Homo sapiens: one gene and its partner. The protein of the gene in region 1 interacts with the protein of each later gene in a pairwise test. Each region holds a gene or a part of one and is shown on either strand. Other genes may lie near its edges. The genes, in order: ACSL5 and SLC7A14.

Region 1 (3,914 bases):
TGCAAAGGTCTGTAGCTTTACTCCTGAGCCAGCAAGACCACAAACCCACCAGAAGGAAGAAACTCTGAACACATCTGAACATCAGAAGGAACAAACTCTAGACACACCGCCTTTAAGAACTGTAACACTCACTGCGAGGGTCCGCGGCTTCATTCTGGTAGCTAAACATACACAGATCAATGGGGCAGCATAGGGGCCAAGGCACTGCAGGGGTTCTCATGACTCTGAGTCAGGTGCTGTCTTGACCGACTGGTTGTGTGATTCCAGAAGCCTTCTTTCACCTGAAAAGGCCTCACTGGCCTCACCTATACAGTAAGTTTGCACATCATCTCCAGGGTTTCTTTCATTTCTACCCACTGTTTTTGTTTAGTAATGATGCCTTGCAGTCCTAATGATCTTGGAATCAAGAATGGTGACTAGAGAACTTCAAAGTGGAAAGAGAGGCTGGGCATGGTGGCTCATGCCTATAATCCCAGCACTTCGGGAGGCCGAGGCAGGCAGATCACTTGAAGTCAGGAGTTCGAGACCAGCCTGGCCAACATGGTGAAACCCTGTCTCTGCTAAAAATACAAAAAAAAAAAAAAAAATTAGCCAGGCATTGTGGTGCATGCCTGTAATCCCAGCCACTCCAGAGGCTGAGGCAGGAGAATTGCTTGAACTCAGGAAGTGGAGGTTGCGGTGAGACTCCGTCTCAAAAAAAAAAAAAAAAAAAAAAAAGGAGAGAGTAGGATGGCTGAGCCATGACGCAGTAGCAATGCTTCTTTTTTTTTTTTTTTTTTTGAGACAGAGTCTCGCTGTGTCGCCCAGGCTGGAGTGCAGTGGCGCGATCTTGGCTCACTGCAAGCTCCACCTCCCGGGTTCACACCATTCTCCTGCCTCAGCCTCCCAAGTAGCTGGGACTACAGGGGCCCACCACCACGCCCGGCTAATTTTTTGTGTATTCAGTAGAGACGGGGTTTCACCGTGTTAGCCAGGAAGCAATGCTTCCTATTCTAGCGCCTTGCTAAACTATGTGTGCTGCAGACTGTGTTCGTGATTCCGAATCCTAAAAACAACCGTCCTAGGCTTGTCTCTCAGCCTAGACTCTAGACTGATTTGGCTCATTTGGTTGTCTTGGAGACGTTCTAATTCTGAAGGGGGCAGTGGTCCCTTCTAGAAGATAGCTGGTCTGCAAATGCACACCTCTGCTTAGTCTGAATCCTAAAGTTATAGCTTGAGCCAATTAAAGTGGCTTCTCATTTTTCTCTCACTCTGATCTCAAGGAGCCCTTTTTCTTCTAGTAATCTAGACCTTCCTCTTCCTATCACAGTCTCAAGGATTGTGCCCCCAAAGCAGATGCAAAGCCCTGTCTACCCCTTCTCCTTCCCCTGAGGTAGAGCTTTATCGAAGGTTTCTCTTGGTAAACGTTAGCTTTCTGAACTAAGGGCCGTCTTTTTTTTTTTTCCCGCTTAAGCCCATTGCATAACAATCTCTTGTTTTAATCTTTTGCCCAACACTGCTTTTCTTACTGTCAGAGGTTACTACAAGTGTTTGAACAGGTAACTTCTACCTTTGAACTTCTGTTGTGACAGATTCAAAGGTTCCAGGGGAGTGTGTTGGCCACTCTCAGGACAGTACACAGTAGCTTCGGGTGTGTCCCAGTCAGTCCTAGGAGCTGTGGAAAGAGTAGAAGTGCCTGAATGTGGTGCTGAATCAATACAGCCAGCTGTGAGGGGAGCACTTCCTGGACCCAGGAAGGGAGAGTCTTCTTCCAAGGTAAGCTGCAATGATACTACCTGCACTATATTGAATATATCTGTGAGATAGTAGGGAGGGGATTGGTGTGGGGAAAGAAAGTGGGATTTGTTATGCTCAACCTAAGGCTCTTTAATAACATGAAATTACATTTAGTTGAATAGTAATCTCAGCTGACTTGTGTGGGAGGCAAAGAAAAAAATCAGTTGGAAAAGGGGTGGAGATATATGAGCTATCCAAATGCTAGCAGGGGATGGAATTGGAAGGGAACACTGATTTTGGTAAGTGTACTAAAGCACACCAAGCCAGAATGTGGGTCTCCTTCATCTTCCATTAAGAAATTTCTGTCTCAGTGTAGTTAGAAGGATCGTGCGTCAGCTGCTGAGGGCAGAGAGTCCCATTTGGCAGACAGAGAGGAAGGGAATCAGCAGATATTCGATTAGGTGCTGGGGACTGTTCTGGGTAGATTATGTATGTTACTTCATTGGTGTATCTCATCCTATAAAGCAGGTGGTATCCTTCCCATTTCACAGAGGCATAGTGCGTCTCCAGGCTGTTAAACAGCATGGCCTAAGCTACATAGCTCCAAGGTGGTGTGGCTAGAATTTGAGACTTGATTGGTCAGTTTCCACAGCCTGCCCAATAATGCAGAATTGTTGTGGGTTGCCAAAGCTTTCAGTTACCCCCTGAAATCCTGAGGGTGTCACTCATGTGCACAGAGGATTGATAGGAATACAACTCTGATGGGCCTTTAGAATGACTCAACCTTCCTGAACTTGAGCATTTTTACTGGAGGAGGTCAATAAAAAAAAAAGAAATAAAACCTCATCTTCCCCTGGCCCTGAGCCCTTTGGTGAAGGAAGACAGCACCCGGTGAAGGGCTCAGAGGTATTAGTGTGGCTGAGATTCGACACCCACTCTGCCATCCTCTGCTCTCCTCTAGAGGAAGTTGCCTCTTGGGGAGCTGAGTTCCTGAAACTAAGCAAATGACAAGTGCTCCTCCAGCCGTGAGATGAGCCAGAGGATGGAATGCCACAGGCCCCACTTCGTCTCCCAGCCCTTCATCTTTCTTCCATGTCCAAAGGCGGCTCCCCAGAGGCCAAGGGCTCAGCTCTTGTGTTCTCTGAGACTGTGGCACAGCTCACCCTGGCTTCCTTAGTAGGAAGCTTTTAAGAACTGCTCTGTAGAAAGAACAAACCCTAATCTAGCTCCAGCAAAGAGCCAGGATCATGCTGAACTTCCTGTGAGCCTTCGTGGGGGATCGAGGCTGGAGAAAGTGCTGCTTCATTCTGAGGTATCTGTGAGGTGGGGAAGGGGCAGGAAAATTTGTCATTTCGGCTTCCTAATCTGAGAATGGTAGCTCCAGGGCCCCCCTGTAGCCACAGCCTTAGGCGGATCAAAAATGAGACTAATACAGGTCCTGGTAATACTGGGGGTGACCAAGGCGAAAGAATCGATTTTTAAGTTAAGTTTTGAGGTGTGACTGTATCAGAGGGAAAGAAACCATGCCAATTGAACGACTCACAGCCCTGTCGTTCCTGACTTGCTTATTTTCTTGGCTTTGCCAGAACTTCTTCAGAGACCAAGGCAGGCAGCTCTGGCGACTGGAGAGAGGCGGGGTAGAAGGTGTTTGTGTGGGTCTGAGGGCTGAGGTACCCTCTAGCCAGACTTTCCTGTCCTCCGAATCCAGCAGGGAACAGCGTCACCTCTGCCTCTGTGAGGCTTCTGATCTGAGGGGGCACCTCAAGTCATTTTAGTTTGTTTGTTTTCATCTTAGTTGAAAGATGATAGGCCACAGGAGGGCAGGGTCAACTGTGTTGAGGCAAGCTGGCTTTTGTGTCGGCCCTTAGGGGCTGAGGTGAAAGGCTTTGACACGGAGCCAGGGTAGCTTTGGCAGCTTCTCCCCTCCTGGTCAGAACACTTCCACTTTCAGTTGTGAAAAAAAAAATTAAAACCAGGAAGTGAAGTCCCCGAGCACGTTAGAAAGCCTGACATGGCCTGACTCGGGACAGCTCAGAGCAGGGCAGAACTGGGGACACTCTGGGCCGGCCTTCTGCCTGCATGGACGCTCTGAAGCCACCCTGTCTCTGGAGGAACCACGAGCGAGGGAAGAAGGACAGGGACTCGTGTGGCAGGAAGAACTCAGAGCCGGGAAGCCCCCATTCACTAGAAGCACTGAG
Region 2 (3,914 bases), on another chromosome or scaffold:
AGACGTATATTTAGTACATAAATGCAGAACCCTGACATGCTTTACTAAATTTGCCAATGAGTGACACCATGAAAAATAATAGAATTAGTGGTAATGACAAGAAGAAGTACTTCTGCATGATAAGAACAAATCTTTCCCCATGCAGGTAGAGGTTTGAAATAGCATAGATCATTAAAATCCACAGGTAAGCTTCAAACCTAGATTTTGCTAGCTACATGTGCCTGGCATATAGTGTGTATTCAAGAAATACCTGATGATTGACAGAATGAATGAATTGGAGGAAAATGAAATATTTATTCAACAATTACTTGTGGAGTGCCTATTATGTACTATGGCAGATATTGATATCGTAAGTCAGATAAAAATCCAGCTCTTAAGAAGTAGAGGAAATAGAGCTTGGTGTGGTGGCATGTGCCTATGATCCCAGATAGTTGAGAGACTGAGGGAGGAGGATCACTTGAGCCCAGGAGTTCAAGGCTGCAGTGAGCTATGATCACACCACTGTACTCCAGCCTGGGTAACAGAAGAATACCCTGTCTCTTAAAAAGGAAAATCAAATAGGGGAAATGGGATATATAAATAAAGAACAATAGTGAATGTGTCAGGTGAGATGACGGACTTGTAATGTGCTGTGGGGGGTCAAATATGAAGAAGGCCTTCTTCCTCTGGAAAGGTCATAAAGAATGTCACACTTGTGTTGGAACTTGTGAAGTGGGTAGAATTTTATCAAGTAGAAATGAGAGAAAGGCATGCCAAGCAAAGGATCGGCATGAATAAGGTCTACTAGTTTGTGGTCCTCTGGCTAAGAATTTGTGCTGTGCCTCCATTAAGAGAAAGCAAGGAGCTAGTTTGCCTGGAGCACATGATTTATGCATGACTTATACATGCAACAATAAGAAATAATGCTAGGAAGGCAGGTGAGGGATCACTCACAGAGAGACTTGAATGTCACACTGAGCTGACTGGCTTTCCTCGGGTGAGAGAGTGGGAAATAATTGGGGAACTGACGAAAGTGTGAATCCAGGAAGGCTGAACTTTAAGAAAGCTGAGACGGTGGCTTCCTTACCTATGCAAGGAACTAACAAGCCACATATACACTCCAAATTGATTTAACAAATTAAAGAGAAAAATAGCTGTACTTTGAGTCCTGTGTCTGCATTCATCATTAACCTAAGAAAATACAGCCATTTAATACGTGGACAAGCAACACAATTTAACAGCCACTTTAAAGTTTTCAACAATAGGTTTCAACAACTAAACCTAACAACTTTTTATATCTATCTAATCTAAACAGTAAAATCTCAGCTCCAGGTTTTACTGAGCTTGAGTGCTACTTTTTTTTTTTTAGACAGAGTCTCATTCTGTCACCCAGGCTGGAGTGCAGTGGCATGATCTTGGCTCACTGCAACCTTCACCTCCCGGGTTCAAGCTATTCTCCTGCCTCAGCCTCCCAAGCAGCTGGGATTATAGGCGTGTGCCAGTTCTACTTCTTAGTAACAAACTAGTAGCTAATCAAATGCCTACATAATGGTCATGATAAATCTGTTTAAATAAATGGCGGGCGGAAGGGAGTTGTTGAATTTAACAATCCATCCTTCTTCAGAATCTATAGGTCAGCCAGAATATAAATCTAGTAATTATTGAAAAACAAAACACAAACTCCTTCAAAGAAATCTCTCTCCTCTATTCTGCTGAAAAGGGTTGGTAAACCTGACATCCTTTCTTTTATTGGAAGACAAATCCAACATTTGTTAGACATCCAACATTTGTTGGAAGTCTACCTTACAAGAAACCACCTCTTATCTGCAACATAAACAGAAGCTACATCAGGTTGAAAATCCACATAGAAGACTGGAGAAAATTGCCGTCCCCTTTCGCACTAGGTTTTACCAGGGGCCCAAGATGTCAGAGGAAAGTCCGCGGAGGGCCAAACACAGGTTTACCTAATTATGAATCTCAGATTAGAATGTCTTATTGTGTGGAAAAGTCAGAACTCAGGAAATGTGTCTGAAGCCAGAGCGGGGGTCTGCTTACGGAGTCTACGCAGCGGGTAGGGGTCCACTATTGGAGTATAAACCTCAGGTCAGTGAGTAGTGCAGAGGTGTCCCTAACTTCCAATGGAGGGAAAGAGAGGAGAGCAAAGGAAACACATCCAGAAGTCGCCACGAGGGCTGTGTGCCAGCGCTCCATTTTCATGCTGTTTGGAACAAGACGTGTCAAGGAAGATGTTTCTATCCAAAGTCTTCATGGAGCCTCTGCTTCCCCTGTACCTGTGTAGCTCCCTGAAACTGAGGACCCACGTGTCTGCAAAGACCTCTGGAGATCCTAAGAGAGAGAGGCACCAGCAGGTAACCAGTGGTGGCCTGGCCACGAAAGAGTATTTGAAATTCAACAGTGAGCAAGTGCAGAAACAGCATCCCAAACCGCAGGCCCCACCACACGCAGGAACCAGAAAGCTGAAGTTTCACCAAGGAGTTTACTTAGTATTTCTCGCTGGGAATGGGGATGGGTAGCAAAAAGCCCCTTTCATGTACATAATGGTTGGTCCTATGTCCTACTTTTATTTTCTCTAAGAGTTTTAGAAGAAAGGCTGTTTTAATTTTTTTTTCTCCTTAAGAGCAACTTCCTTTTTAAAATGCTTTCCTCTTCTTGTCCTGCTTGAGTAATGCAGGCATCATTCTGAAATCATTCTGAAACAGCTAGGCAGTCGCCTTTTGCCAAAATTACTTCTCTAAGAAAATAGAGTGTTCTTTTTTTTAGGACTTAGAACCCACAAGGGGTGAGTGGAAGTTTTGTAGCCCATCAAAGGTGAATATGTGTTCTGCAGTATCAACTAAAACAGTGTACAAAATCATTAAACTGGGCCGGGCGCAGTGGCTCATGCCTGTAATCCCAGCACTTTGGGAGGCCGAGGCGGGTGGATCACCTGAGGCCAGGAGTTCAAGACCAGCCTGACCAACATGGAGAAACCCCATCTCTACTAAAAATACAAAATTAGCCAGGTGTGGTGTTGCATGCCTGTAATCCCAGCTATTAGGGAGGCTGAGGCAGGAGAATCGCTTGAACCCGGGAGGCAGAGGTTGCAGTGAGTCGAGATCACACCATTGCACTCCAGCCTGGGCAATAAGAGCAAAACTCCGTCTCAAAAATAATAATAATAATAATTTAACTGTGTTCTGCACACACAGAATTACAAAATCCCTATAGGACTTTCACAGATAGCTTTGGGCTTAAGGTCTTCGGACAACAGGTAGTTCTAATTTCTTACTCTTTGGGACATTTAGTACATGTTGGTACACATAAGGAAAGAAAATGGCTTATATTAGAGCTAGGAAACAGGGGCAGCCTGGATTTTTATGGTAGGAACTCACTCTGTGCTTTTTTTTTTTTCTGTTAAGTTTTCTTGACACTGACTTCGGTAACATTGGCTAAAGGGAATTGTGAGTCATGTGAATTTCACCTGCAGTGCAGACTTTAAAGGACTGTGTTCATTCTGATTTGGGGATGAAGAGAATGTTCCATGCACATCTATTGATTGGTCTTGGCAGTTGCTGATACGCTTGTCTCATTCACACTCCCAAAGGCGAGGATTTACCCTAGAAATCATAAACCCCCACTTTCCAAAGCAAAGATGCTGTTAATGTTATGATGGTGCATAAATACCTCAACTGTCTGGGCTGAGAGAGGGGGCTGCAGGTTTTTAAGAGAGCAGCTATAGTCCTCATTCCATGTAGTCACATCATCTGATGACAGGACTCCACATTCTAGCTTTTCTCACTGTGGAAAAGAAACGTTACTGTTTAATTAATATCCAAAGTTATAAATACAGCTTGTAAATTTTACTAACTTGTTTCTTTTTCGTTTCGTCCTTGAGAAGTACAACTTGCATTTACAGATGGTAATTCCTAGTGTTG

What was found.
Region 2: the proteins of ACSL5 (region 1) and SLC7A14 interact in binary tests that used the Homo sapiens proteins (3 or more experiments, as listed by UniProt).

Annotation. Positions count from the first base shown.
Region 1 is NC_000010.11:112,372,515-112,376,428, forward strand, and holds the start of ACSL5 (long-chain-fatty-acid--CoA ligase 5), read left to right. Parts: upstream 1-1,601; 5' UTR 1,602-1,755; intron 1,756-2,753; exon of another isoform or gene 2,754-3,028; intron 3,029-3,690; exon of another isoform or gene 3,691-3,795; coding exon of another isoform or gene 3,796-3,914. UniProt on the Homo sapiens protein: Catalyzes the conversion of long-chain fatty acids to their active form acyl-CoAs for both synthesis of cellular lipids, and degradation via beta-oxidation.
Region 2 is NC_000003.12:170,460,162-170,464,075, reverse strand, and holds part of SLC7A14 (solute carrier family 7 member 14), read left to right. Parts: 3' UTR 1-3,914. UniProt on the Homo sapiens protein: Imports 4-aminobutanoate (GABA) into lysosomes. May act as a GABA sensor that regulates mTORC2-dependent INS signaling and gluconeogenesis. The transport mechanism and substrate selectivity remain to be elucidated.